Linked DNA regions of Homo sapiens. The protein of the gene in region 2 interacts with the protein of the main gene of each other region in a pairwise test. Each region holds a gene or a part of one and is shown on either strand. Other genes may lie near its edges. The genes, in order: KCNJ6, VSTM1, MANSC1 and LAMP1.

Region 1 (7,026 bases), on a different chromosome or scaffold from region 2:
TCGGTCTAGAACTGGAAGGAATCAAAACAACACTGGTGAGCTTCCGAAAAGGAGAGAGAGTTTGTTAGCAAGATGAGAGCCAGTGATCACATCTTCAAGCCTGCGTGTGAGCAAGGTGGCTACATTTCCTAGGTTGCAGTCGTAGGAAACCGAGAGGAGTCACTTCTCTTAATACAAACAAGGAAGAAACTGCAGGAGGGGAGGATTTATTACCATTCAAGTTCCATTTCAACATTCATACAGGGAAAACAGGTAAGTCCATCAAGCCCTTCTGCTCTCACTTTACGAGAAGCTGGTCTTTGCCCTGCTCTCATCCTTGGTAGTAGGTCCCCCACCACCACAACTGTCACTGATATGAAGAGGAAAAATAATACAGGAAGGTGACAGTCATATTTGAAATAGAATGCCTGTCAGAGTGCCATCCAGGTGTTACAAGGTATACTTTGAATTGCAGAGCCCAGTCAAGGTTTGGCAACTGGTTGGAAATGTTGATAAAGCTTCAACAATATCCCTGGCTGCTTTCCTGTTTTGTGGATGCACTTGTGCATGAGGTCTTGAGCTGGTTCTGGTTTGTTATTTTTAATGGTAAACAAGATATGATCCTGGTTTTCCTTGCTGGGCTTTCCAAGTGTGACATGTTGTTTCTAAAGATATTGCATGCTGAGCACTCAGGATGTGGTTAAAGCAGTGTGTTTCTACCTTCCAGTCTTTTCAAATGATTGCTAGTGAAGACAGAGCAATCTATTTCAAACCTAAGCAAAAGGATGAGTTATTACACTATTTCTTACATTTCAGTTCCTGATAGGTATTGACAAGTTTATCCATAATTTAGTTTATGAAAAGGTTGCTACCTAAAGTAGACAGAAGAAGTGACACGTGGAGTATTAAACAACGCAGCTGTTCCTTGGCCTTGTTCCATCTGACATTATCAGCAGAAGGGAAGTAGACGTTCATTATGAGGATGAAGCTATACGAGAATATAGACTGTTAGATAAACAAAGTAATGTATTTCTGAGTTCTAAAGTTCAATTTCTCTAATAAATTAAAAAGGGGGGTGGTGTCAATAATCTAGGTATATGAAATTGTTCAGTCAATAATCTTTACTTCTGGTAGTTTCCATGCTCACATATTCAGTGCTTATTCACCGAACTATGACTTGCTTTCTTCCTAGGTGGCTAATTGATTAACAAAGTGTCACTATGCCCTTTTCAGTCAATAGCATACTCCAAAATAATTGGTTTACTCATTTCAAGTAAGATTTGTTAAGGAGAGCAACTTGTGAAAATTCGCCCCCATTCACTTGGTTCCATTTTGCTATTTTAAAAAATCATTTTGATACCTCTTCTAGGTATTGCCTAAACAATAGTTACCTCATCTAGATATTGCCTAAACATTAGTATGTTTTCCTTTGTGTGAGACAGGTCTTTATTTAATACATAGGACTTACATGAACTATTTTCCTTGAGAATATAGAAGGGCTTTTAACTCAGTCTCATATTCCTCCCTATCATCTCAGTCTACCTCTACTTTATAGGGAAAAAAATTAGAATAGTTATTTAAGAAGTTATAGAAAAAATTCATTGGAGATTAAAAATAAAATACCCTTATGGAATCTTAACCCCATTCACTGATTTTCACAGGTAGAAAATGTTGCTGTTCTCAAGGGTTTAATGTTGACCATGTAAACCTTAATGAAAACAAGATAAATGCTCTTTATGGAAAGGCAGGCAGATAAGGTGAAGCTCTTCTCTTTTTCACCAGTTCTTCCTTTATCAAATGATATGTAAGTAATATGGAAATGGAAATGGACCAGAAATAGGCAGAGTAGGAGGAAAGAAGAAAGTGAGGGGAAAAGGCAGTTACTTATTGCTACCAGCTTTAAACTGACAATACTTTTCAAAGTGAGGTTGGTTTTTCTAAGTTCATTGTATTAGAACTTTAAGTTTGGTGGAATTAAGATGTTTAAATTCAGTGAATTTGGATTTATAGCTTATTGAGATGGCATTTCTTGTTTCTTCATTTTATCTTCAATAATTGGCATTTAAGTACCAAAAGATAATTGATTCACTCTGGAGTTTTACAAAATTATTAACTTTGGTAATACCAGTAAGGGGGAAATTGGCAGTTAAGTTGAAAAATCATCAAAACACTTTTGTTGAGTTAGTTTTCTTTTTAATTTTAGTGAAAGTATTTGGAGAGATAGAAGAATAAAATGTAGCTGTTTAGGATAAAAATACATTTTGAAGTGCATTTTAAATAATTATTTCTAGAAATAATTAGGCTCCAATAAAAAGAAGAGATAATCACAATTGCAGTTAGTGCTCTAATGGTATTCTGAATTTCCTCTGGCAAAGTACTAGAATATACATATACTTGCTATCATTTTAATAACATTAAATAATAGTGAAATTATTTTCCTCAAAGAGCGGTCTCATCATTAAAAGAAGAGTCTGTATCCTCTCTAAACTATAGCTTTGATCTAATCATACCTGCTAATCAGTTGTAAATATTCATTTATTTATTTGTTACTAAATTGAATCATTGTTTAAACAAAACCTCAGAGAATGATTTTGTGCAGTGTGCAATGTTCAAATGGTCATTCAGATCTGATTTTATATGGAATGCAGTAAGGCCATCAATCAATTTTCCCAATTACAATGTGTAAAGTTAACCCTAAATTTTAACCAAGTGACTAATTTATGTCTATACAAATGTATCCAAGTCAGATTAAACCCATTATCTCCTTGAGTCTCATGCTTCTCATTTTTTCTGTATGGCTGTGCTTAGGACCAGGAATCATACAGTACTGGTGATTCTTTTAGTGAATAGATTTTGGCTAACATGTATCACCGGTCTTATTCCCAGTCACAGAGATGTGGTTTCCGACATGAAATCCTTACAAAAGGAACCAGAAAGTGCATCTGTGGCTAAAAAGATCCATGTCCTTGCCAACAACTGTTCTGTGGGACTAAATCTGAAGGTATTATATGCAATGTGAGAGACATATCTATAAATTAAGTTTAAATCCTGTGGCAGTTTCCTCTTTAAACTTACAGACATCTACTTTTTTCTTATCCAGGATAAGAATTGATTTTTTTCATGATGCTTTAAATTTCTCTTGTATCATCTAGCAGGAACTTGTGCAAGTTTGACAATGTGCTTGGTAGGCGGTGTTGCTCCGTGATTAAGAGCACAGGCTCCGGTGTTTCTTACTAACTGAATCTGCATCAAGGTCTAGGTGTATCTGTCCATTTTTGCCAAGTTTGGGGCAGTAACAGCAACCCCAGCATCTCAGTGGCTTACAAAACAAAGGCGTATTATTCTCTGGAGCGCTATGCCTCTGCTGGTCAGCTGTGGCTCTGCTCCTGTGACTTCATTCTGGAATTCAAGATCAAGAATTGGTCTGGAACACTCTATCCCAGTATCAGAGGAAAAGGAGACTCCCAAGTTAAGCAATGGCCCTTAACATTTCTGCTCAGACATGGCACAAGTTATCCACTCACATTCCATTGACCGGACAATTCACATGTCACATCAGTGTCAATGATCAATGGGAAGGAGATGTATATTTCTCCCACAGTGAAGCACTGCAAGCCGTGCAGCAACAGGTAGAGACATCTAATCTTTCAGAGAGGGAAGAGAATAATTGGAGGCAATAATATAATCCACTATGCTAACTATGTGACCTTAATCAACTTTATGCCTTGCTTTCCCTATCATAAAATAATAACAATAAGAGTAATAATAACAACATATACCTCAGAGATGTTATGAGGATTCATGTGATAATGTAAGTAAAGTTCTTAGCACAGGCCAGGAGCGGTGGCTTACACCTATAATCCCAGCACTTTAGGAGGCCGAGTCAGGTGGATCCCTTGAGGCCAGGAGATGACTTGAGACCAGCCTGGCCAAAGTGGCAAAACCCCATCTCTACTAAAAATACAAAAATCAGCCAGGTGTGGAGGCACATGCCTGTAGTCCCAGCTACTCAGGAGGCTGAGGCACAAGAATTGCTTGAACCCAGGAGGCAGATGTTGCAGTGAGCTGAGATCACACCACTGCACTCCAGCCTGGGTGAGAGGGAGACTCTGTCTCCAAAAAAAAAAAAAAAGTTCTTTGTGCAGTGTCCAGCACAAAGTAGGCACTTTAAAAATAGCAGATGTTTTTATTCATTTATTGCAATGTGGCATTAACTTCAGTTCTTGATGAGCCTGTGTATACTGTATTAATTAGAAAGTTCTTGAAACAGAAAATATCTAAATCTCACTAATTTAACAAAATAGAAGATTTCTTTCACATAAATCTAATTGGTTGATGCCGTACAAGGACCCAGGCTGAGGGACACTTTGTCATCTTTAGTACATGGCTTCTAAGATCTGCTGAGTGGTGATATCCAACTAGCAGACAAGGAAAGAGGGAGAGTAGATGATTATGTAGAAGATTTTAATGATCCGGGCCTAGAAGTAATGTATATCACTCCTATTCATATTCTATGGTCATACCTAACTGCAAGAGCAGCTGCAAATTGTAGTTCAGCTCTATATCCAGGAGGAGGGAAACTGGTAGGGTGAACACACTGGAGTCTTTGGTATGCATGCCCGATATAAATGTCTGGCAGCAAAGAAATACAGCTAATGTGAATCAGGATAGAGTAAGGCAGAGGAAATGATTTGTCCCAGTGGTGAAAAGATTCCTGGTAGAGACAATATTTCCTGGTGCCCTTGAATCATTCTTTAGTGGTGTATTTTTTTAAAATAAATTAGTTGGGATATGTTGACTTTTGGAGTAGGTGTAGATGATTCTTAACAAAAGAGATGCAAATACATATTGTTTGATTTCTGTTAGCTGATCTGTTAAAGTAGACACAAAGGAGAAAAGCCAACTTCACAACCCATGCTCAAAAGCAATGTTCTAATCTTGACAATTACACCCACATTGTGTCTAAGAATGCTGAAGAATTAGATGCTGTCTTCTAATATCTGGCACTTGCTGTTGACTAGCAATTTGCATTTTGTTTTAAATCCCCTAAATGTCCATAGGCTAGATACATGCTGTAAGTTTAGGTTGAATTAGTCTACTAATAGTCATTGTTTTCCTGAAAATAGACCATGTAATTTGTAAGCAGTGTTTGAGAACCTCTGCTTCCCTCAAGGAGAAAACTTGGAAACTAAGTTCCATACCTTTTCACTAGAAGCAAAAGAACAGCTTTAATGCCAAACTTACAACCTAGAAAAGAGAAATGTCAGGGAGAAATATCTGAGAAGACTATGAGAGGAAGAACCAGAAGAAACAGAGTGGTGATCCATAATACTTCCGGTTCTCTTACATCGTTTCCATTTCCCTAACTCAGATATCACAGCCACATACATTCATGCAGGGGAAAACATTATCAAAATGAAACAGTAAATACCAGTAATGCATGTTAATCCTTCCATGGGGCAGTAATACTGGATTAGAAAACTCTTGACCTCTTCAAATATCTTGCCATTCCAAAGTAAATAATGTCTCATAGTGGAACTTCTGTTTAATGAAGAGAATGTTTTTGAGGACAGGATTTATTTCACTGCCACATTCAATCATTTCAATTTAAAAGGGATATAATCCAACAATCTATGTGCAGAAGGGAATAGGCAGGACAGTACCTGAGTCCAAACCATGTAATATTAGAGTAGATGAAAGAATTAGGAGTGTTTTCCCTGGAGAATATGTGGGGGAGGAGGCATGATAGTTGTTTTCAGGTATCTTGATATTTGAAGATGAAGGAAGGATTATAATTGTTCTGCTGGGCTCTAAGGGATAAAAGTGGGACCCAGCAGTGGAAGCTACAAAGTGACATATTTTGGTTCAATATAAGAAAGCATTTTCAGTAGTCAGAGCGGGGCAGAGGTAATGTGATCTGTCTTCTCTGCATTTACACAGCTCTGAATTCTTTGTCACTAGAAGCATAAAGAAGCTGAGAGAGCTAGGAACTGGGGTTGGAGTGTATGTATTTCAAAGTCTCTGCAACACAGAGCACTTCTAATGGCTATGAGAGAAGCGATGCCCTTCAGGCTCAGTCAACAAATCAGACTGGACCTCACCACTCTATGGGGCCATTGCTTTATGACTGAGGGAGCCATCATTTCTCTATAAAAAAAATGAATCACATTTAACCAAAAATGATATCTCAGTCCCTACACGAACCTTGTGTCTATGAGAGCAGGTCTGGAATGCAGTAATCATATGACTAAGCAGCATCACATGACTAAGAGGAAGGGTACAGGACTCACTGCTCATGGAAAAGCTTTACCCTTGCTTTTTGTTGTCAACACACTACCTTCAGTCAAAAGACAAGGAATGAAATCTCTCTTCGGAGGTTTTTGCATCACCTTACAACATTTTCAGAGCCAAGACTCCATGACGAGTTAGGCAGAGCACACTTCAGATTTTTAGACATCTCTAACGTGCAAAATATAGTGCTACTAACATATAATTCCTCCTCTCAAGAAATCTAGTTTCAATAATGGCAACGAATGGGGTAGATTCCTTCCTCTTCAGCTGTCTCCCAAGGTCTCACCAGTCAATACCCTAAACATATTCACCCTCTTAAATTTTCATTAGCCCTCCTGGGGTGGCTGGGCCCACAGTAGTAAAGCATATAAAGAGAGGGCAGAAAGAGGACGGCAAATAAAGAACCTATGACATTATGTGTTGTCATTGGAAGAGAGGCCGCATTAGGTGGCCCTCTTTTTTAATCAGCACTCAAGGAGTGTTGGGCCCAAGCCCACACTCCACATGTCTCCTTGACTGGCCACTGTTGGGGGTCTCTGTGGACAAAAGGAGGCATCAGAGCTGATGAAAGTCAGCTGAGGTCAGTGGTTCCCATAGTGTGTCCCTGAACCAGCAGCAGCATCACCAGGGAGCTGGCTACAAATGCAAATTCTCAAGCTCACCCCCCGATCTACTGGATCAGGAACCCTGAGGACAGGGCCAATCATCTGCCCATCCCCTCCAGGGATTCTGATGCACTCTAAAGGGTGGGAGCTA
Region 2 (6,599 bases):
TTTTCTGCCCTCTGGTCTAGGAGTTTGCAGCTCTGGGCGTTTTTTGTTTTTTTTTTTTTTTTTTTTTGAGATGGAGTCTCACTCCATTGCCCAGGCTGGAATTCAATGGCGCCATCTCAGCTCACTGCAATCTCTGCCTCCTGGGTTCAAGCGATTCTTCTGCCTCAGTCTCCCAAGTAGCGGGGATTACAGGCGCCTGCCACCACGTCCAACTAATTTTTTATTTTTAGTAGAGATGGGATTTCACCATGTTGGTCAGGCTGGTCTTGAACTCTGACCTCAGATGATCCACCCACCTCGGCCTCCCAAAGTGCTGGGATGACAGGCGTGAGCCCGGCCGTTTTCTTTTTTGCTTGTTGTGCTTCCTGGAGATGCTCAGTAATTCTTACATTCTTTCCTGGATAGCTGGTCAATCATTATTTATTATTTCCTTGAATTGTTCTAGGAGGAAATGTGGGGTAGAAAGAGTATGGTGGGGTTCTTGGGCATGAATAATCCATAAATAAGTCAGATTTCTTTTTAAGACGAGAAACTTAATTTTATTGATATGGACGAAGAGCAAGGAAACACAGTATCTGCATCTCCAGATTTCCGATAACCTTGGCCAGCACGATCCCCCCTCCTTTAGTGGCCAGGGCTGTCTTCTTGCTACACTTTCAGTGCCGCATATTCATGAGATCCTGGGGGCTCCTGGGTGGTGTCTGAAGCTGCCTCAGACAGGGCGCTGGTGCTTAGCTCAGCATAGGTCACTCCTTGGGGGTCTGCCGTCTTTGGAGAAAATAGATGAATATTAGAACTGAGTGTTCAATATGGCAGCCACTAGCCACACATGGCTATTGACATTTAAGTTAATTACAATTAAATTTAATTTAAAACCCAGGTCCTCGGTCACACCAGATGCATTTCTTTTTCTTTTCTGTTTTTATAACCCTTTATGCCTGTGACATCAATGGATCTGCGTAAGCCTTTTTTCATTTTTTTTAAATTTTTATTTATTTATTTATTTTGGGACAGAGTCTGGCTCTGTCGCCCAGGCTGGAGTGCGGTGGCGTGATCTCGGCTCACTGCAACCTCCGCCTCCCGGGTTCAAGCCATTCTCCTGGCTCAGCCTCCTGAGTAGCTGGGATTACAGGCGCCCACTACCACGCCCAGCTAATTTTTTGTATCTTTAGTAGAGATGGGGTTTCACCATGTTAACCAGGATGGTCTCGATCTCCTGACCTCATGATCCGCCCGCCTCGGCCTCCCAAAGTGCTGGGATTACAGGCGTGAGCCACCGCGCCCGGCCCATGCATAAGCCTTTTAAATGGAGATTTTGGTTCCCATTAGGGGAGTTTCGTGACTTGTCTAAGACCACATGCGTGATAAACAGTATACATTTCTGTATGGGCTTAACCAGGAGGCACACACGACCAGCCCATTGTGGTGAGGGAGCTCTTGTGGGACTCCTAAGCGGGAGGACTCACCGAGAGAGATACCCTTTCCATATTGGATAAATCTGCCTCTGAGTGAGAAAGGAAAAAAAAAAATCAGTTCTCAGCTGCAGAAGTCAGAACTTAGTCTTTCTATCCGGTGATTCCCTTAAACTTCCCCTGTCCCTTACCGGCAGCCTCCTGCTCCGGAAGTTTGGAATGGCTGGTTCTGAAAGAGAGAGACACACGTGAAAGGATGGGATGTGAAGATTTCGGGGAGAGGGTGAGGGCAATGGAGGGGAGAGGAAGGGAGAAGAAGGGAGAGGAGGAAGGTCACAGAATGGGCTGGGGTGGGGGCTCAGGGTGCCAATCCCGGATGTGCCAATGGGTTCCCTTGAGAATGACATGGGAATAAGTGGAGCATGAGCTATGCCAAGCATCTACCTCTTGGTGGATTCCTCAGATGATGAACCTACAAAAAATGCAGGAGGAATTTACCTACCGAGAAAATCCTTCACTCCCCCTCTCTCCCTTTGCGTTCTCTGAGCTCACTGTGCTGGCTGCATCTGTAGATGATGAAGACTGAGAGGAAGAGGAGAAGGATGGAGATGCAGCTGAAGATGGCGACAAAGATGGTTCTGGTGTCTGGAGGGGGAAGAGCAGGTCAGGGAATCAGCCTGGCTCCTGAAATCCACTGATAGGGGCGAGCCGAAAAGCTAAGAGAAGCCAGACAGATGGCCTGGCTTCCAAGCCTGGATCTCCCACCTCGGAGCTGGAACTTCCTATTGCTTTGGGGAATTTCCTTAATCTTCTCCAAGCTTCTGTTTCCCCATCTGTAAAGTGAGGATAGCAGCAGTAGCTACTTTATTGGATGGTGGGTCAGTACCTATAGAAAGGGCTGGAACAGTGCTTGGCGCATAGGAAATTCCAAAAATTCCCAGGGAATGTTTGGTGCATAGCAATGATATTGATCATTTATTGTGAGCCAGCTCTGTTCCAGGTGCTCCATATATATATATACGTGTGTGTGTGTGTATATATATATATAAATGTATATATATGTGTGTGTATATATAAATGTGTATATATATATATATATATATATATATATATACATATATATATATATATACACACTTTTTTTTTTTTGAGATGGAGTCGTGTTCTGTCACCCAGGCTGGAGTGTGATCCTGGCTCACTGCAACCTCCACCTCCCTGGTTCAAACAATTCTCCTGACTCAGCCTCCTGAGTAGTTGGGATTACAGGCGTGAGCCACCACATCTGTCTGTGTAATCACTGTCTGAAATCCACTGATGGGGTGAGTAGAAAAGCTAAGAGAAGCCAGACAGATGGCCTGGCTTCCAAGCCTGGATCTCCCACCTTGGAGCTGGAACTTCCTTGGAGCTGGACATTTCGACCAATAGACTTTGAGTAAAGCAGATGACCCACTGTCATAGGGGTGGGCCTCATCCAATCAGTTGAAGACTTTAAGACTTTAAGAGAAAAGACTGAGGTCCCCCAAGGTGGAAGGAATTCTGCCTCCAGACTCAAGCTGCAATATCAAGTCTCCCCTGGATCCCCTGCCTGCCTGCCCTGCAGATTTCAGACTTGCCAGCTCCCCACAATCACGTGAACCAATCCATTAAAATCAATCTCTCTCTCCATATATGTATATACATGTATATGTTCTCTTTTTTTTTTTTGAGACAAAGTCTCACTCTTATCGTCCAGGCTGGAGTGCAATAGTGCAATCTTGGCTCACTGCAAGCTCCGCCTCCCGGGTTCAAGCAATTCTCCTGCCTTAGCCTCCTGAGTAGCTGGGATTACAGGTGCCCACCATCACGCCCGGCTAATTTTTGTATTTTTAGTAGAGACGGGGTTTCGCCATGTTGGCCACGCTGGTCTTGAACTACTGACCTCAGGCAATCTGCCTGCCTCGGCCTCCCAAAGTGCTGGGATTACAGGCGTGAGCCACCACACCCAGCTTATATCTATATGTTCTATTGGTTCTGTTTTTCTGGAAAACCCTGGCTAACACAGACATGATCTCAGCTCTTAACTTCAAACATATTTCCTTTTTCTTTTTTTAAAGGAGAGAGAGAGATGTGAAAGGACGGGATGTGAAGATTATGGGGAGAGGGTGAGGGCAATGGAGGGGAGAGGAGGGGAGAGGAGGGAGGTCACAGATGGGAGCTCAGGATGCCAATCCCAGATGTGCCAATGGGTTCCCATTGTTGCCCAGGCTAGAGTGCAGTGGTGTGATCATACTCGAATTCCTGGGCTCAAGTGGTCCTCCTCACTCGGCCTCCAGGGTAGCTGGGAGTACAGACCACCACGCCCAGCCAACTTCAAACACACTTCAATGAGCTCGTTGATGCCAGGTAATGAACAGCAGTGACACGGGCATGGAAGGCGTTTAGAGTGGGGAGGGGTGGGGCTCTCTGAAGGAGACATGATTCCCCAAGACACAGAACAAGGGATCAGCTGGGAGAATTCAGGGAGGATTCCTAATAAGAACAGGGTTAGAGCAGGGTAGAAAAGAATGACCAGTGGCCGGGCACGGTGGCTCACGCCTGTAATCCTGGCACTTTGGGAGAGTGAAGTAGGTGGATCACTTGAGGTCTGGAGTTCGAGACCAGCCTGGCCAACATGGTGAAACCCTGTCTCTACTGAAAATATAAAAAATAAGCTGGGCATGGTGGCGCACGCCTGTAGTCCCAGCTACTCAGGAGGCTGAGAGAAGAGAATTGCTTGAACCTGGGAGGCGGAGGTTGCAGTGAGCCGAGATCGCATCACTGCATCATACACTCAACTGACCAAGACTCCAACTCAAAAAAGCATCCCTCTCAGGAGATAAAATTTCTACCAATTAAAAAACAAAAACAAAACAAAACAAAAAAAACTAGTTCTTGAGCAATATTGCCATGCAAGTCTACATCATAGCGTTTTAAAGTCTTAACAACAACCCTGCAAGGTAGTACAATTATTTCCCTCCCACTGGTGAAGGGCATGCATTCCCGTGTGACTCCTGGGATTACAGCAAGGGTTGTGTCCAAAGCTCACAGCGTTGAGGAAGAGAGAGCAACCTGTTACTAAAGCTAGGCGACAGAGTCCATGCAGTTCCCCCCCGTTTTTTGTTTTTCTTGGCACTTTAGATTCAAGAAACACAAGTCGTGAGACTTTAAGGAGTAAGTAGCAGAAACGTGATTAAGGAAAAAAGTTGAGCAACTATAGAAGTGAGGCCCCAGAAAGGGGCTTCACCAAGACCCCCGCTATCTTTGTTAGTGTGCTTTGAGTCTGAGAATTTTTCCTAGGTGTGCAATGATCTGTGGTCACATTACAGAGCCAAGTCTGAGATGCTTCACACGCCTGGTCCTCTGCACCAACAGAGGGTCTCCCATCCAGACGCTTCCCCTACTTGGTTCGCTATGTTTGCATTGGCATTTCTACATATCTATATATAGAGAATTACCTATCTAATTTATCTATCTCGCTAATCTATCTACCATCTGTCTAGGTATCTATTATCTATCTACCTATCTATCTTTATCTGTCTCTGTACCTACTTACCTATCATCTATCCAATCTATCCGTCCTATCTAATTATGATTTATCTATCTACCTACTTGCCTATCACCTATCCAATCTATCTATCCTATCATATGTAATTAACTATCTGTCTGTCTAATTTTTCTATCTTGTTAATCTATCACTTATCTAGGCATCTATGTATCTATCTTTATCTGTCTATCCACCTGCTTACCTGCTGTCTGTCTAATCTATCCATCCTATCATATCTAATTATCACTTATCTATCTACCGACTTACCTATCATCTAGTTACCAAATCTATCATCTATCTAATGTATCTATCAATCATAACCAGTTATCTATCATCTATCATCTATCATCTGTATGTATCTGTCTATTCACCTACTATTATCTATTTAATCTATTCTATCTAGTTATCTATCTATCTATCCACCTACTTATCTAATTTTTCTATCTTGCAACTCTATCACCTATCTAGGTATCTATGTATCTATCTGTGTATCTGTATATCTATCTATCTATCTAGCTAGCTTTATCTAGCTACCTAGTTACCTATCATCTATCTATCTAATCTATCATCTATCTAATGTATCTATCAATCATATCTAATTATCTGTCTATCTAATCATCTATCTTATCTATTATATCTAGTTATCTATCATCTAGCTAGCTAGCTAATCTATCTGTATCTATCTACCTACTTACCTATCGTCTATTTATCTATCTAATCTATCATATCTAGTTATCTATCTACTTACTTATCTAACCTGTTGTATCTAGTTATCTATCTACCTACTTACCTATCATCTGTCTATCTATCTAATCTGTCCATCGTATCTAGCTACTTATCTACCTATCATCTATGTATCTATCTAATCTATCATATCTAGTTATCTATTTATCTGCCTACTTGCCTATTATCTATCACATCTAATTATCTATCTATCCCCCTCCCTGAAATAAGGTTCTTTCTGAGCTGATCATCAGGGAGCAGCAAAAGGAGTGGGGAGTTTGAAACAAGACATATTTGAGTTCTAGTACTGGGTCTCCTACCTCCTGACTTTGTAAATGTTCCCTTCCCTTTCTGGAATACGTTATTTTTTGGTTAAATATAAGGAGGGGGCAGAGAGCTAATAATATCTAACTTGAAGAGTTAGGTAATGATGAAAAATCCTGGCTTTAAAGCGCTCAGTCTAGAAACTGACTCATTGTGTCGGATAATGGGATTGTAGGTATAATGATGATTTTTTTTCACCCAATATTCCACCTACACCCATCTCTCTCTGTAATAGATTCTGTCAATGTTCCTCAACCCATGTTCCCCAGATCCCTTTCCCATTTTTATGCATTCTAGATCGTGGCTTCTTTCCCTTTCCAAAGTGAACATTTGTATCTCTTCTTTGGGGGACTGCCTGGGAGAACTCCAAATGCCTTGGAATTTACATGCCCGGGACAAACTGCCACTGACGGCTGTGGGGACCCCAGCTCCCTAGCCTCTGGTCTTCGACCTTCTCTGTCTCCACTGCTTTCTGCAGGATGGAGCCAAAGATACCATCTGAGGGACACAGATATCCCACACTTGTTTAATCTATTTTCCTCCCAGCCCTTCTTCCCCACTCCCTAAAATGTAATTTT
Region 3 (7,184 bases), on a different chromosome or scaffold from region 2:
CCATCTGGGGGTGATGGGAGACAGTGACAGATCATCAGGCATTAGATTCTCATAAGGAGTGTGCAGCCTAGATCCCTCACATGTGCAGTTCACAACAGGGTTCGTGCGCCGATGAGAATCTACGGCCACCACTGATCTGACAGGAGGTGGAGCTCAGGCAGTAATGCATAATGTAAATACAGAGGAAGCTTTGCTCTCTGGCCCACTGCTCACCTCCTGCTGTGTGGCCCATTTCCTAATAGGTACTGGTCTGCGGCCCAGGGGTTGGGGAACCCTGTGATAAAGGACTGGTATCCAAAATATACAAAGAACTCAAGTCAGCAATAAGAAAAGAAACTCAATGGACAGAAGATCTGAGCAGACACCTTATCAAAGAAGATATACAGATGACAAATAAGCATATGAAAAGGTATCTAACATCATATGTCATTAGGGGATTGCAAATTCAAACAAGATACCACTACCCACCTATGAGAATGGCTAAAATCCAAAAAATGGACAATACCAAATACAAGGACATGGAGCAACAGAAATTCTCGCCTGGGCGCGGTGGCTCACATCTGTAATCCCAGCACTTTGGGAGGCCAAGGTGGGCAGATCACTTGAGGTCAGGAGTTTGAGATCAGCCTGACCAACATGGTGAAACCCCATCTCTACTAAAAAAAAATACAAAAATTAGCCAGATATGGTGGCAGGTGCCTGTAATCCCAGCTACTTGGGAGGCTGAGGCAGAAGAATCGCTTGAACCCGGGACGTGGAGGTTGCAGTGAGCCGAGATCATGCCACTGCACTCCAGCCTGGGCAACAGAGTGAGACCCTATCTCAAAAAAGAAAAAAAAAAAAGGAAAAATTCTCATTCATTGCTGTTGGGGAATGCAAAATGGTACAGCCACTTTGGGAGAAGTTTGGCAGTTTCTTACCAAGCTAAATGCAGCCTTACCATACAATTCAGCAATTGTCCTCCTATGTATTCACTCAAATGAATTGAAAACTTATGTCCACACAAAAATCTGCAATAGAATATTTGTAGTAGCTTTATTCATAATTGCCAAAAACTAAAAGCAACCAAGATGCCCATCAATAGATGAATAAACAAAATGAGATACATCCATACATTGGAATATTACTCAGTAATAAAAATAAATGAACTATCAAGCCACAAAAAGACATGGAGGAATCTTAACTGCATATTCCTAAGTCAAAGAAGCCAGTCTGAACAGATATGAATCTAACTGTATGACGTTCTAAAAAAGGCAAACTACAGCGGCAGTAAGAAGGCCAGTGGTCACCAGGAGAACAGGAGTGGGAGGATGAATCGGTGGAGTGCAAGGGATATTTGGGGCATTGAGACTATTCTGTATAACACTGTAATGGAGGATACATGTTATTGAACATCTGTCAAAACCCATAGAAATGTAAAACACACAGAGTGAACATTATGTGAACTATGGACTTTTAGTTTTAAAAAAAGGTAAAACCAAAAAAAAAAAAAAACCCAGAAACAAACCAGTATATGGTAATAAAACACAAGTCTAATACTTTTCTTGCTGTTTGTCAAAATTCTGTATACAGTAAAATAGTAACATTTATTGCGTCTAAAATGCCAGTTTCTATGCTAAGCACTTTATATATATCATGTCATTTAATCTTTACAGATCCCATTATTATCCTCATTTTAGTTAAAACTTACAAAAAGTTGTGGGACATAATATGTGCTTCTTTATTAACCTATTAAGTAACAAGTGGTCATCTAATAACTGCCATAATTTTGACGTGGTATTGAGTATAGATAATATTTTGAAACGTGCAACAAGTCATGTGATATAAAGATATCGGCAATATTTACAGGGGGCAAATCATAGCTACTGCTAATACTACTGTGGCTTTTGCCTACATTCCATTTCAGAAGTCGGTGAAATAATAATTTTTTCCACTCAAGTTCACAGACATCCTGAATTCTATCCATGGATACCTTATCGTGGACTCCCCAGGTTAATAATTCTGGCCAAGGTACTTAATACGCTGCCATATTTTGCAAGCCTCTAGGGAATCAAGAGAAAACCAGGCCAATACTTTATTTTGAATGGATTCTAATGTAGCCTCTTTTCAAGCTTTTGCAAAGAAACCTGAACTATGTAAGGAGATGGGGCAGGAGTTGTTTTCAGTATGCAGCATTGAGAGAAGTGTTTAAGAGTTTTATATCATTAAAGAGGCTCAGCAATATTAGGTTAGCGACGTTTTCTAATCCATTATTATTTAGGCTTTAAGGGCCTGAAGTCGAGTTGAATCTTGTTGAAAGACGGGGTAAAAGGATACAGGCGGGTGAGAGAGGATGCCCCTGAGTTTTAACGTCTGCATACAAGAGTCGCTAAAACTTACTCGCACGTAATTAGTTCAAATATTGGAAATCGTCTTACAGCACACTATAATTTACCAAGATGCTTATAACTGTATACACACACACACTCTACAGAGAATTAGACAATTAGCAGTTTCAATAATGAATACAGAGTCAACGACAAGAAAACAGGGAACATTTTCTCTTCCTTTGAGGAAATGCATGTTGCCTACTGAGCTATTCTTCTGCCTCTCCTTCTGATGTCAACGCAGAGCCAGAGCCATTTATGGCAGGTGCCTTGAGCCCGCCTAGAGGTCCCCTTTGGAATACTGCAGCGACTCAAGGATCCTGGTCAGCCCTTATTGGCCCCAGCTGGTCCTTTGGATGCTCGGGTGTGGGTGAAGGAGCCTCGGCCCCTGGAAAGGAGGGGACCGACTCTCTCCGCAGGTAGCGACGTCGCCTGCGGCCGGTCGGGGGTGGGTATTGGGGAGACCCCTTTACCTGGCGTCGAGAGGACCCCGGCGCCCCTGCTGCCATCCAGGTGCGAGGACAGCTCTGTCGCGCCCGCGGGAAGGACCGGCGAATCCGCGCGGGGGTCTCGGCGAGGACCGCAGCGGATGCTCCGCAGCTCCCGCACCGGCCTGGCGGGTTTTGTGGTTAGCAAGTTCCTGCTTCCGTCGCAGCGACGGCAAGTTTGCCGCGGGGGAAGGGCACGTTCCTGCCCTGCAACCCGGAGCTGCTTCCCGGCAACATTAGCGCGTCCCTCCCCGCGGAGGCTCCGGGCTCCCGGCCCCAGCGCTGAGCCCCGCAGGGAGGTGGCTCCCCCCACCGCCCCGCGCTCCCCCCCAGCTCAGCCACACCGCTGACCCCGGGCTGGGCGCGCTGCGAGGGGGAGTGCGTGCCTCCCTGCTGGTGGCCCGAGGGTCTGCAGGTGAGCCTTGCCTCGCGGCCCGCGCAAGTTAAAATAAATGCACATGGGGAAAATGTCAAACAGTACAAAAATAGACACAGAGACAAGTCTACCCCTCACCCCCGTGCCCCAGTCTCCTAGTCTCCCTCCTCAGAGGCAACCACTGAGAGCAGTTTTTTGATGTTCAAGGGCTTATAGTGCATCCTATTGGGGGCATAGTTCTGAGAATCCTCTTTCCATAATTGGAGGATGGAGTCCTCAATTAAAGATGGCAATTCTTGAGTTAAATATTATCTGCAAGACAAACTTCAGGGAAGGTATTTGGCTTTCTGCGGGATTTATTGTTTGTAGATAGGATAATAATGGTGAAAATGCTGGTGTCTGTAACATATATTAAAACTGTATCCCTAACACTTAGCATAGTGCCTGGTACACAATAGGTGCTCAGTAAATATTTAACTAAAATATTTTTGTTGACTGAATGAATGGAAAAGAACTGCATAGGGCATAGGTTGTGGAAGTTTCTAAATTACTGCTGGCCCCATCCCCACCTCCATAAACACACACACAAATGCAACGTTACTAAACCATTGACACTTAGTTTGCCATATGGTCTAACCTTTGACAGTATCTTCACCTCTGTTTTGAAAGAGCTTGCAGACCTGAAGCGCTATGCAATTGCAAGTTAAGTCTAGGCCTGTACGGCCAACAGCTACACACCCTAGTCTTAACCAATAACTACAGGAGGATTAGGTTGACTGAGAATGCTTGTGAACAAAGGTCCATTGTGTGAAACTAACTCTACTTGTAACCAAAGGATGACTCTTGAATTACAATGTTGCTAAAGCTAGGTTTGAAAGAGTTACCAAAGAAAAGTAAACACCAGAGTAATTTCCCATTGCAGTGATTTTCCTGATGCAACAAGGGACTGATCTGCAAGTGTGTTTTATCTTTTATCATCTGATACACTTCAGGGTTCAGGGTGTAGAGCTATCACAGTTTTTGAATCTCTCTACATGGGGTAATCCATGCTAGTTACAAAGTAGACCTTTCCATTATTAGAAACTTCGTATTCGGTGCTTTAATACAATGAACCTGTTTCTTTTTTTGTTTTGTTTTGTGTTTTGTTTGTTTTTAGAGACGGAGTCTCGCTGTGTTGCCCAGGCTGGAGTGCAGTGGTGTGATCTCGGCTCACTGCAACCTCCACCTCCCGGGTTATAGCAATTCTTTTGCCTCAGACTCCTGAGTAGCTGGGACTACAGGCACATGCCGCCACGCCCAGCTAATTTTTTTCTATTTTAGTAGAGATGGGGTTTCACCGTGTTGCCCAGGCTGGTCTCGAACTCCTGAGCTCAGGCAATCCGCCCGCCTCGGCGTCCCAAAGTGCTAGGATTACAGGCGTGAGCCACTGTGCCCGGCCTGAACCTGTTTTCATTGAAGTGATATGTTATTTTTTCAGTTATGACAGTGAACAAAGGATATTGATTAAAATAATGATTAAAGAAATATTTTCTATTATATATGTTTAATTTATAAATATCATTGTTTATTTATTCATTTTTTTAGACAGGGTCTCGCTCTGTTGCCCACACTGGAGTGCAATGGCACAATCACGACTCACTGCAGCTTTGACCACCTGGGCTCAAGTGATTCTTTTGCCTCAGTCTCTTGAGTAGCTGGGACCACAAACGCACACCACACCCAGCTAATGTTCTTAATTTTTTTTTTTTTTTTAATTTTGAGATGGAGTCTCGCTCTGTTGCCCAGGCTGGAGTGCAGTGGCACGATCTCAGCTCACTGCAACTTCTGCCTCCCAGGTTCAAGCAATTCTCCTGCTTCAGTCTCCTGAGTAGCTGAGATTACAGGCTCATGCCACCATGCCCAGCTAATTTTTGTATTTTTAGTAGAGTCGGGGTTTCACCATGTTGGTCAGGCTGGTCTTGAACTCCTGACATCAAGTGATCTGCCCACCTTGGCCTCCCAAAGTGCTGGGATTATAGGCGTGACCCACCGTACCCGGTGTTTTAAATTATTTGTATAGATGAGGTCTTGCTACATTGCCCAGGCTAGTCTCAAACTCCTGGGCTCAAGCAATCCTCCTGCTTTGGCCTCCCAAAGTGCTGGGATTACAGGTGTGAGCCACTGCACTTGGCTTACTTAAAAATAAAATAAAAACTTTAATTTCTGGCCTGAGTCATAACTTAGAAATTATATCCATTGTCACTTCATTTCCTGAAGAGATTCTTGACACTCTTCTCTGAGGGTTAGAAGTCCCATCTATGTGGAGAAAGATTTCTTTAAAAGTAATCGGAAAACATGTATTAAGCAGCCAGGCGCAGTGGCTCACGCCTGTAATCCCAGCACTTTGGGAGGCCGAGGCGGGTGGATCACGAGGTCAGGAGATCGAGACCATCCTGGCTAACATGGTGAAACCCTGTCTCTAATAAAAATACAAAAAATTAGCTGGGTATGGTGGCGCGCGCCTGTAGTCCCAGCTATTGGGGAGGCTGAGGCAGAAGAATGGTGTGAACCCAGGAGGTGGAGCTTGTAGTGAGCCGAGATCGAGCCACTGCACTCCAGCCTGGGTGAAAGAGTGAGACTCTGTCTCAAAAAACAAACAAACAAACAAACAAACAAACAAAAAAAAAAACATGTATTAAGCACCTGCAGGGGAAACTAAAGACCAGTAATACCAATGAGATCTACCTTTAAGATGTTCATAGTTCAGAAGGAGAAAAAGTAAATCAATGGCTGTGTAAACAGTTAAGTGTGATGAAGGCCAGGTGTAGTGGCTCATGCCTGTAATTCCAGTGCTTTGGGAAGCCAAGGCAGGAGGATCACTTAAGCCCAGGAGTTTGAGGCCAGCCTGAGCAGCATAGCAAGACTCCATCTCTACAAAAAATAAAAATTAGCATGGTGTGGTGGTACACGTCTGTAGTTTCAGCTACTTGGGAGGCTGAGACAGGAGGATCTCCTAAGAGCCTAGGAGGCTCTTAGGAGGCTGTAGTGAGCCATGATAGCATCACTGCACTCCAGCCTGGGCAACAGAGTGAGACCCTGTCCCTGCCCTCCCCAAGAAAAGAATAAATGTTATGATAGAAGATGGCAACTAAAAAGGCTCAGAGAAGGGACATCTGATCCCAATTTCTGGGAAGAGGTGTTAATTATTGAAGAATGAAGTTATTAGCAGATGAGGAGGAAAAGGCTGAATATTTCAGGAATAGGAAACTGCATGACCACAGGAAATTCAGCCTGTTAGGAAGGTTACCAGTGTACACAGAAGAATAGAGAGAGAGGCTGGGGTCAGAGCAGGAAGGTTTTCATATGTTAAATCTTAAACTTTATCCTAAAGGCATGGGGAGTTCCTGAAGGCTTTTTGTAGGGCAGTGACAGGTCCAGAGACCTAATTAATATTCTAGAAAATTATCTCTACCTGCCACAGGAGGGATGGATTGAGGGACGTGAGGCCAGAGGCCTCTCTTCCAAGAAACGGAAGTGATAAGGCCCTGAAATGGGCATGCAGATAGAGGAGAAATTAAGAGGAGAGGCTCTCCAGGACACAACGATTGGTTGGATGCAGTGCTGACAGTAAGCAGGCTTCTGGCTTGGGAGCCTGGTTGGGTGGGAGTACCAGGTCATATAAAGACACGGGAAGAGGAGTCAGTCTGGAGTGGACAGAGGCATGATGAGTTTTGAAAACGTGAATCCTGGTTTTATCACTCACTAGTTGTGTGACCAAGAATAAATCACTTAACTTTTCTGTAAAATTAGGAAAGTGGTATCTACTTTACACGCAGGTCATAATATAGACCTTTTTATGCAGGTCTAACATATAGACCTGCAGACCTGTAAACTCAAAAAGGCTGTTCAATTGCTAGTTATTACATATACAATAACACAGTTTGCTGCTCATGTAGAAGGGATTTTAAAGGTGCT
Region 4 (7,801 bases), on a different chromosome or scaffold from region 2:
CCACCTGGGCCTCCCAAAGTGCTGAGATTACAGGCGTGAACCACTGCACCCAGCCGAGTATAAAATTGTTCAAACCTCCTAAGTGACAGTTGTTCAAGTGGAAAGGGTAAGGCGGTCATCCTGCTGACATCAATGGTTTAAAGGGTCACATTACGCAATCACAGCTAATCCTATCTATCAGGACAAGTTTCAGTTCATGTTTGAGCTTTCTAAGTATTCAAACACAGTAGCTTTAAACAATGCCTAATTATTAATATAGTGGAAATTTGTAATTGAGCAGTTTCTTTTTTTAAGAAAAAAGGATTTTTGGTGAAATCGCACATTAAAATAAACATTTTAAATATCTTTAAATGCAAGTTGTTAAAAGGCCTTTTTTAAAAGTTGGATTTTGGCTAGGCACGGTGGCTCATGGCTGTAATCCCAGCACTTTGGGAGTCTGAGGCAGGTGGATCACGAGGTCAGTTCGAGACCAGCCTGGCCAGCATGGTGAAACCCCATCTCTACTAAAACTACAAAAATTAGCCAGGCATGGTGGCGCGCACCTGTAGTCCCAGCTACTAGGGAGGCTGAGGCAGGAGAACTGCTTGAACACAAGAGGCGGAGGCTGCAGTGAACGGAGATCACGCCACTGCACTCCAGCCTGGGTGACAGAGTGAGACTCTGCCTCAAAAAAAAAAAAAAAAAATTCTTGGGCCAAGTACGGTGGCTCAAACCCGTACTCCCAGCACTTTGGGAGGCAGAGGGAGGCGGATCACGAGGTCGGGAGATCGAGACCAGTCTAACCAACATAGTTAAACCTAGTCTCTACCAAAAATACATAAATTAGCCTAGCATAGTGGCGGGTGCCTGTAATCCCAGCTACTCAGGAAGCTGAGGCAGAAGAATTGCTCGAACCCAGGAGGCAGAAGTTGTAGTGAGCCGAGGTTGTGCCACTGCACTCCAGCCTGGGCACAGAGCAACTCCGCCTCAAAAAAAAAAAGTTAAGATTGTAAACATAAAAGATATAATGGAACAGATCTTAGAAGACTGATTACACAAGCAATATTCCAATCACAATATTAGGGAGTTATGGATTTTTTCTCTTCATTTTTAAAGTTAATTTTTTTTTTGTTTTGAGACGGAGTCTCCCTCAGTTGCCCAGGCTGGAGTGCAGTGGCTTGATCTCAGCTCACTGCAACCTCTGCTTCCCGGGTTCAAGCAATTCTTCTGCCTCAGCCTACCAAGTAGCTGGGATTACAGGCGTGCGCCACCATGCCCAGCTAATTTTTGTATTTTTGTAGAGACCGGGTTTCGCCATATTGGCCAGGCTGGTCTCGAACTCCTGACGCCATGATCCATCTGCCTCGGCCACCCAAAGTGTTGGGATTAAAGGCGTGAGCCACTGCTCCCGGCCTGAAGTGAGTTTTTAAAACATGAAACAAAACATCAAAGTTATGAGGCTTGTGAGCATCTGTAACAAAGAACAATGCAGTTGCTGTGACATGACAAAACTTGTTTCTGCAACTCCTTTCATTAACTACACCTGACCCTGTCGCAGGAGCTGAGCAAGGCTTCAGGCTTACTATTGGAATAAGTTCATCTCTGTGGCTATTCAGGCAGTTCAAAGAATTCATTTTACACAACAGGCAAAACAAAAAAGGGAAGCCAAGATCCATTCACTCACAGTAACAGAGTTTTACAGCTGGATGGGACTGAGGGATTTAAAGAAGTCAAGGCAGATGTGTACAGGAGTGTATTTCTATATCTACTTAACTCACACACACTCCCCCAGCTTGATTCTACATCACCTTTCAGATCCTGGCATTTAAGATAATCTTCTCATATTACGGGGGAGGGCGGCGGGGGGAGGAGGTGAAAGAATAGTGTTGGCGGGGGGCAATCCGGACTGTCTTAAAGAGACAGCACACATCCTCTTATTAAGACAATAAATGAGAACGAAATTCACTAGTCAATACAATATTGAGCACCTACTGCCCATCTGAGCTCTATAAACTGACAGAAGAGAAGGGTGCTTCCCCACGTGTTCCCTGGTCCCGCATTTCGGCCTACAGGAACGGCGCTCTTTAAACTACTTACTAGACATGAACATTGCCACCGTGAGTCTGAGGCCAGCTTTCCCTCATCTTGTCTACTACGGAATCTTGTGAAATCCCAAAGATAACTTTAAAAATTATTTTAACATACATGTGAATTCACAATAACATAAATACACTCGCATCTCCTCCACACCGCTGAAAGAGGAGAAAGGTTCAAGTACAAAGGTGGGGAATGCTCGCACCGGCTTCTCCCTGTCCTGGGTGAAATCCATGTTGGGAAGAGCTTGATCTAGGTCACCCACCCGGGAGCTGAGACCACAGACGTCCCTGCCACCTTCGGCGGCGCAGCCTCGTCTAGATCTCACCGCCTCAACTTGCCAGGAAACTTAACGACCTGAAAGCACCAGACCGCCGAGCAAGCCATCGGAAGTTCCCTTTCGCACTCACCACCACAGAAAAACTGAGTTCAGTGAGACAGACCTTAGAGGAGCCAGGTCCTGGGATGAGACCTCCTGGTCCCCCAAGCACCTGCCATTGAGCTCCGCTCCGACCCTACGACCCCGAGAGAAACACCCGCCCGCGGGCAGAGCCGGCCGGGACCAGGAGCAGTGGGTGCGGGGCGACCCGCGGGACAACGACCCGGCAGTCCCCCGCCCTCAAGACCCAGGGACCTCGGCTCCGCCCGGTCCCGCCGCTCCCAGGCCCCGCCTCGACCCCCTCACCGAGCAGCAGCAACAGCAGTAGCAGCAGCAGGGGTCGCCGGGCGCTGCCGGGGGCCGCCATGGCGCGAGGCGGCCGGGTACGGTGCGGGGAGCGGGGGCGCGGGCGGCGGTTGGGCCGCGGACTGCCGGGCGCTGCGGTGGCGGGGCGCGGGCGCCAAGGGCTGGCGTTAGAGACAGCGGCGTTACCAGACGCAAGAGGCCCGGCCACTGCGACGCCGGCACGAAGAAGACACCGCGGCCGGCAGCGCTTGTCACGTGAGCTGCGCCGCGCCCGGGCGTCACGTGATCCCGCGGGTCTCGCGAGAGCGCGCGCGTCGAGCGCCGGCGGCTCGGCTCCCCGCAGGTGCGGCAGCTTCCAGCACCGCGCGCCCCCTCACGCGTGATGCAGGCCGACACGTGACCCGCAGCGGCACGTGACCCGCAGCGGCACGTGACCCTGGACCCACGTGACCCGGCCTGGTCCGGGGGACTGGGGCCGAGCCGAGGTCCTGAAACGGGAAGTGGGCTGGGTTCGCGGAAAAGGAAGAGGAAGAGTAGTGGCGGGAGAAAGTGAGGAAAGAGGAAGCCCGCGAGGGGAGAAAGGGCAGACGGATCGCGGACGCCCAGGCCTCCCTTCAGCCTGCGAGGCGTCCCAAACGCGGGCTCTTTATGGACAGGAGGGTGGTGTGGGTGGCAGCGCGGGTGACCGGCCGGGTGCGCGGCCAGGGATGGGCGAAGGGTTTGTCTTTTGGTGAGTGGGAAGCAAGTTCCTCACACAGGGAGGCCACTGTGCCCAAACTCTTGAGTGGTTTTAGGAAGGAAATAAGGGATCTGAAATGGGTCAGTGCGGCCTTCCGCTCGTTAATCGCGGGCTGAGGGAAGACGGCACCAGGCTGCCCAAGGTGAAGGTGAAGGTGCGATGGCGATACTCTTTGGCTTACAGAAAGTTCCTGTCGAGCACTTTGTTTTTTTTTTTGAGACGGAGTCTCGCTCTGTCGCCCAGGCTGGAGTGCAGTGGCGCGATCTCGGCTCGCTGTAACCTCCGCCTCCCGGGTTCAAGCGATTCTCTTGCCTCAGCCTCCCAAGTAGCTGGGATTACAGGCGTGCGCCACCACGCCCGGCTGATTTTGTATGTTGAGTAGAGACGGGGTTTCACCAGTTGGCCAGGCTGGTCTCGAACTCCTGACCTCAAGCAATCCACCCGCCTCGGCCTCCCAAAGTGCTGAGATTACAGCCCTGAGCCACGGCGCCTGGCTCCTGCATTTTAGAAGTCTGAAGATGCTCTGTTTTTTGGCTTGTCATCATATAGGATTTATGGCCTTTTGTTAAAATACTATTTAATTAAGGCCCCTACGCTACTGCTTTGTATAAAGCACCCGTCGCATAAGTACCTACATCTTAGAAAAAGATTTAATCTTACATTTCAAAAGGCATCATAGCAACGGGGACTGGATGTGCACCTAGTTAATAGAGACAGCACTCAGCCAGATAAAGACAGGACCAGGCACTCACTATCAGTCCTCACCAGAGGACTGTGACCTTAAAAAGGGCGGGATTTGACCAATTCAACACTGGCATTTTGATAGACCCCACCTTGCTGTCACTTGTGCTTAGCACCCTGCATCTGCTGCCTAAGGATCTGCTCACATCAAGGACTTCCTTGGAAGACAATGACTTCTGTCTGGATCAGGCTGGAATACACTCCTTGTTCCCGTCATTGCTTTCCTTGGATTGATCCATTAACCCCTTTTCCTATCCTCTTTCTCTTGATGTCCAATGTTACTTTGTTTGATGGGGAATGTTTAAACCATAGCGTTTGTATTTTAAGTACACTATGATGTATAGTTTGCAGTATTGACTGACACGTGGACTGGCTTGAGCCTTTGCCCATGGCTCTACCAAGTTAACAAGTAGTACTGAAGGGAATTGTCTCGAGGCAACTCCTCGTAGCTCGTGGCTTTTATAATTGAAATAGCATCAATATATTCCCACCCTGTGGAAAGACATAAACGTGTGTGGACCTGGTTATGTCTGACCTTGTGCTGTTCACAACATGCCTTGAGAGAGAAATACTTCTGAACTGAGGCCTCTCACACGATGGGTACAGCAAGTGCTAATAAACTTCTGCTTGTTTCTCCTGTTGCTCTGAATTTTGTTTTCAGGAGAATGTCTCAACTAATAAAGAGAGAAAGAAGAGAAATTATATTTTCTCCCCTGCAGTGGAATGAGACAATTACGCGAAACTCTGGAGGTTTAAATTCGGGGACTCCTCTGATCCACTGCTTCTTAAGGAGGCTAGAAGTAGGGTTTAGAAAGTAGGAGAGGTGTTTGAACAAGCATACTGAATATTACAGTTTTATGGTGCAAAACAAAAACCTGCTTAACAATGCAAAAATAGAATCTAATGCTGGACAAAATCTTGGTTGAAGGAGGTTCAGAGATGACATGATTCCCACACTGTGTCCTAAAGTGTGTATCAGAACGGAGGGAGGGCATTTATCAAAAAAAGGCTCAGAAACACTCATCTAGTCCAAACCATACATATCTGTTCTTTCCTTTCCTGCTGCTGCCCCATGCTCTGGCCATACTCATCTATTTACTTCACCTGTCTCCACTTTTTTGTGGTTACAATTATTTAGACAAAGTGATGCCCTACTCCCTCCCTCCCTTCTTTTCTTTTCTTTTTTTCTTCTTTTTCTGATTCTTTCCTTTTTCTTTTCTTCCCCCTTCTTTCTTTTTTGTTTTGTTTTGTTTTGTGACAGGATTTCTCTCTGTCTCCCAGGCTGGAGTGCAGTGTTGGAATCAAGGCTCACTGCAGCCTCAAGCGGCCTTCCCACCTCAGCGTCCTAAGTAGATGGGACTACCGGTGCACACCATCACACCTGGCCAATTTTTAAAAAATTGGCTGGGATCACAGGCATGCACCACCATGCCAAGCTAATTTTTGTGTTTTTAGTAGAGACAGGGTTTCACTATGTTGTCCAGGCTGTTGAACTCCTGACCTCAAGTGATCCACCCTCCTTGGCTTCCCAAAGTGCTGGGAATACAGGCATGAGCCACCGCGCCTGACCTTTTTTTTTTTTTTTTTCACATTTTATAGCTTTTCTTTGTTTTTTAAGTTAGGAATTCAGTGTGGAATATATTTCCCTGAAGACATTGTTAACCTAAAATAATCAAGAGTCAGAATCTACTTTAAAGAGAGATTATTCAAGTGCAAAGTTTGAGGACAGGCCGCCCAGGAAGCACAGATTCCAAAGAACAGAAGTCGGTGTTCTGAAATGTAGCAGTTTGGGATCATTTCTATAGATGAAGTTTAGGGAAACTTAACACAATTCCAGCATCTTTCTCTCTGAGGGTGAATGCACAGTTACTGTGCTCCGATTAGCCAAGGTGGTCTTTTCCTATTGGGAAAGGTATGTTTGGCGTTCCACACGGACTACGTCACGGGGTCGTCGTGCCATCTAGTCTGAGTTAGGACAGATGCACAGGACAATGAAGGAGGCGGCTGGTCCACAGCAAAGATCAGTAATGGGAAGCGGGGAAGTCTGGTCTCTGGTCTCTCCTAGTCATTTACAAAACAAGAACAAGAGGCTGTGTGGTCACCTGTCAGCCTAACCAGTCCAAGAAGCTGAAGTTGCAAACGTGCTGCATGACTCAGGCCACAGGGCCTAGCTTCCCGCTTGGCACAAGAAACAGGCTCCTGAAATTTTCTTCTGCAGTTTCTGCCACAAGAGTTCAGGTTTGGAAGCTGATACATGGGCTCAGTATTTGAAATAAAGTAGTGGTTGATAGGTAAAAATTGAGATAAGTAGTCTTTTTGTAACAATTCTAAAGGATATTTTAAATAAAAGTAGAATAATATAATGATCCCCGCCTTGCCTACCACTATTACCCGCCTTTCAGTTACTACTTAAAAAATGTTTTTTAGAGGTAGGGTCTCACTGTGTTGCCCAGGCTGGGTTGCCCAACACTGCAGCCTCATCCTTCTGGGTGCAACTGAGCCTTCCACCTCAGCCTCCCAAGCACCTCCAACTACGGGCACGCACTGTCACACCTGGCTAATTTATTTTTACTTTTGTATAAAAGACAGGGTTTGCTATGTTGCTCAGGCTTATTGTGAACTCCTGGGCTCAAGTGAGCATCCCGCCTCGGCCTCCCAAAATGCTGGGATTATAGATGGGAGCCACTATGTCCAGCCCAGTTACCAACATTACGGCTAAACTCACCTTGGGCATTTCTAGGTCACAGTTGGAATCCATGATTTCATCAAGAAGCCCTGGTTTGGGCCAGGCGCAGTGGCTCACACCTGTAATCCCAGCACTTGGGGAGGCTGAGGTGGGAGGATCCTGTGAAGACAGGAGTTTGAGACCAGCCTGGCCAACGTGTTGAAACCCTGTCTCTACTAAAAATACAACAATTAGCGGGCTGTGTTGGCGTGCGCCTGTAATCCCAGCTACTCCAGAGGCTGAGACATGAGAATCACTTGAAACCTGGGAGGCAGAGGTTGCAGTGAGCTGAGATCATGCCATTGCACGCCAGCCTGGGCAACAGAGTGAGACTCTGTCTAAAAAAAAAAAAAAAAAAAGCCCTGGTTTATTTTGATGAAAAATGGTCTTTAGAGATGTCAGAGTCAAAAATGTAGAGATGACTCTCCAAATTTAACGTTTTATTTGGGAAGAAAGCATTGCAATTCAGGTGTCAACTGCAAATAATGAGATTCAGAAAATCTGATTACCTATAGTGTGTATTTGAGTGCAGAGCTTGAGGATGGCCACCCGGGAAGGCACTGACTGCAGACACATGGGGTCAGCGTTTCCAAGTGGAGAAGCTCAGGTTTCACTTACCACGCAGAGACAGAAGCTCCAGCAGGATCACCACAGTTCTCATATGAGACCAGGGGCACACGCCGCAGCGGTTCCATTGGTTAGGGATCTCTGTATTTGAAGGAAGATTGCGTTATGACTCCATGAGGAGGGGTAGTGATCTGAGGGGGTCTTATCTCCGGTGCCATTTGGTCTTTATTGTTTACAGGGAGAAAGGCAGAAGTTGCAGCTGCGTGTGGCA

The links.
Region 1: the proteins of VSTM1 (region 2) and KCNJ6 interact in binary tests that used the Homo sapiens proteins (3 or more experiments, as listed by UniProt).
Region 3: the proteins of VSTM1 (region 2) and MANSC1 interact in binary tests that used the Homo sapiens proteins (3 or more experiments, as listed by UniProt).
Region 4: the proteins of VSTM1 (region 2) and LAMP1 interact in binary tests that used the Homo sapiens proteins (3 or more experiments, as listed by UniProt).

Annotation. Positions count from the first base shown.
Region 1 is NC_000021.9:37,906,455-37,913,480, reverse strand, and holds part of KCNJ6 (G protein-activated inward rectifier potassium channel 2), read left to right. Parts: intron 1-7,026. UniProt on the Homo sapiens protein: Inward rectifier potassium channels are characterized by a greater tendency to allow potassium to flow into the cell rather than out of it.
Region 2 is NC_000019.10:54,040,313-54,046,911, forward strand, and holds the end of VSTM1 (V-set and transmembrane domain-containing protein 1 isoform 1 precursor), read right to left. Parts: intron 2,246-6,599; coding exon of another isoform or gene 2,178-2,245; intron 2,058-2,177; coding exon 1,965-2,057; coding exon of another isoform or gene 1,915-1,964; intron 1,885-1,914; coding exon 1,857-1,884; intron 1,642-1,856; coding exon 1,604-1,641; intron 1,505-1,603; coding exon 1,467-1,504; intron 769-1,466; coding exon 649-768; 3' UTR 513-648; downstream 1-512.
Region 3 is NC_000012.12:12,347,239-12,354,422, forward strand, and holds the start of MANSC1 (MANSC domain-containing protein 1 isoform 1 precursor), read right to left. Parts: upstream 3,005-7,184; 5' UTR 2,840-3,004; intron 1-2,839.
Region 4 is NC_000013.11:113,292,453-113,300,253, reverse strand, and holds the start of LAMP1 (lysosome-associated membrane glycoprotein 1 precursor), read right to left. Parts: upstream 3,016-7,801; 5' UTR 2,820-3,015; coding exon 2,759-2,819; intron 2,616-2,758; exon of another isoform or gene 2,517-2,615; intron 1-2,516. UniProt on the Homo sapiens protein: Lysosomal membrane glycoprotein which plays an important role in lysosome biogenesis, lysosomal pH regulation, autophagy and cholesterol homeostasis.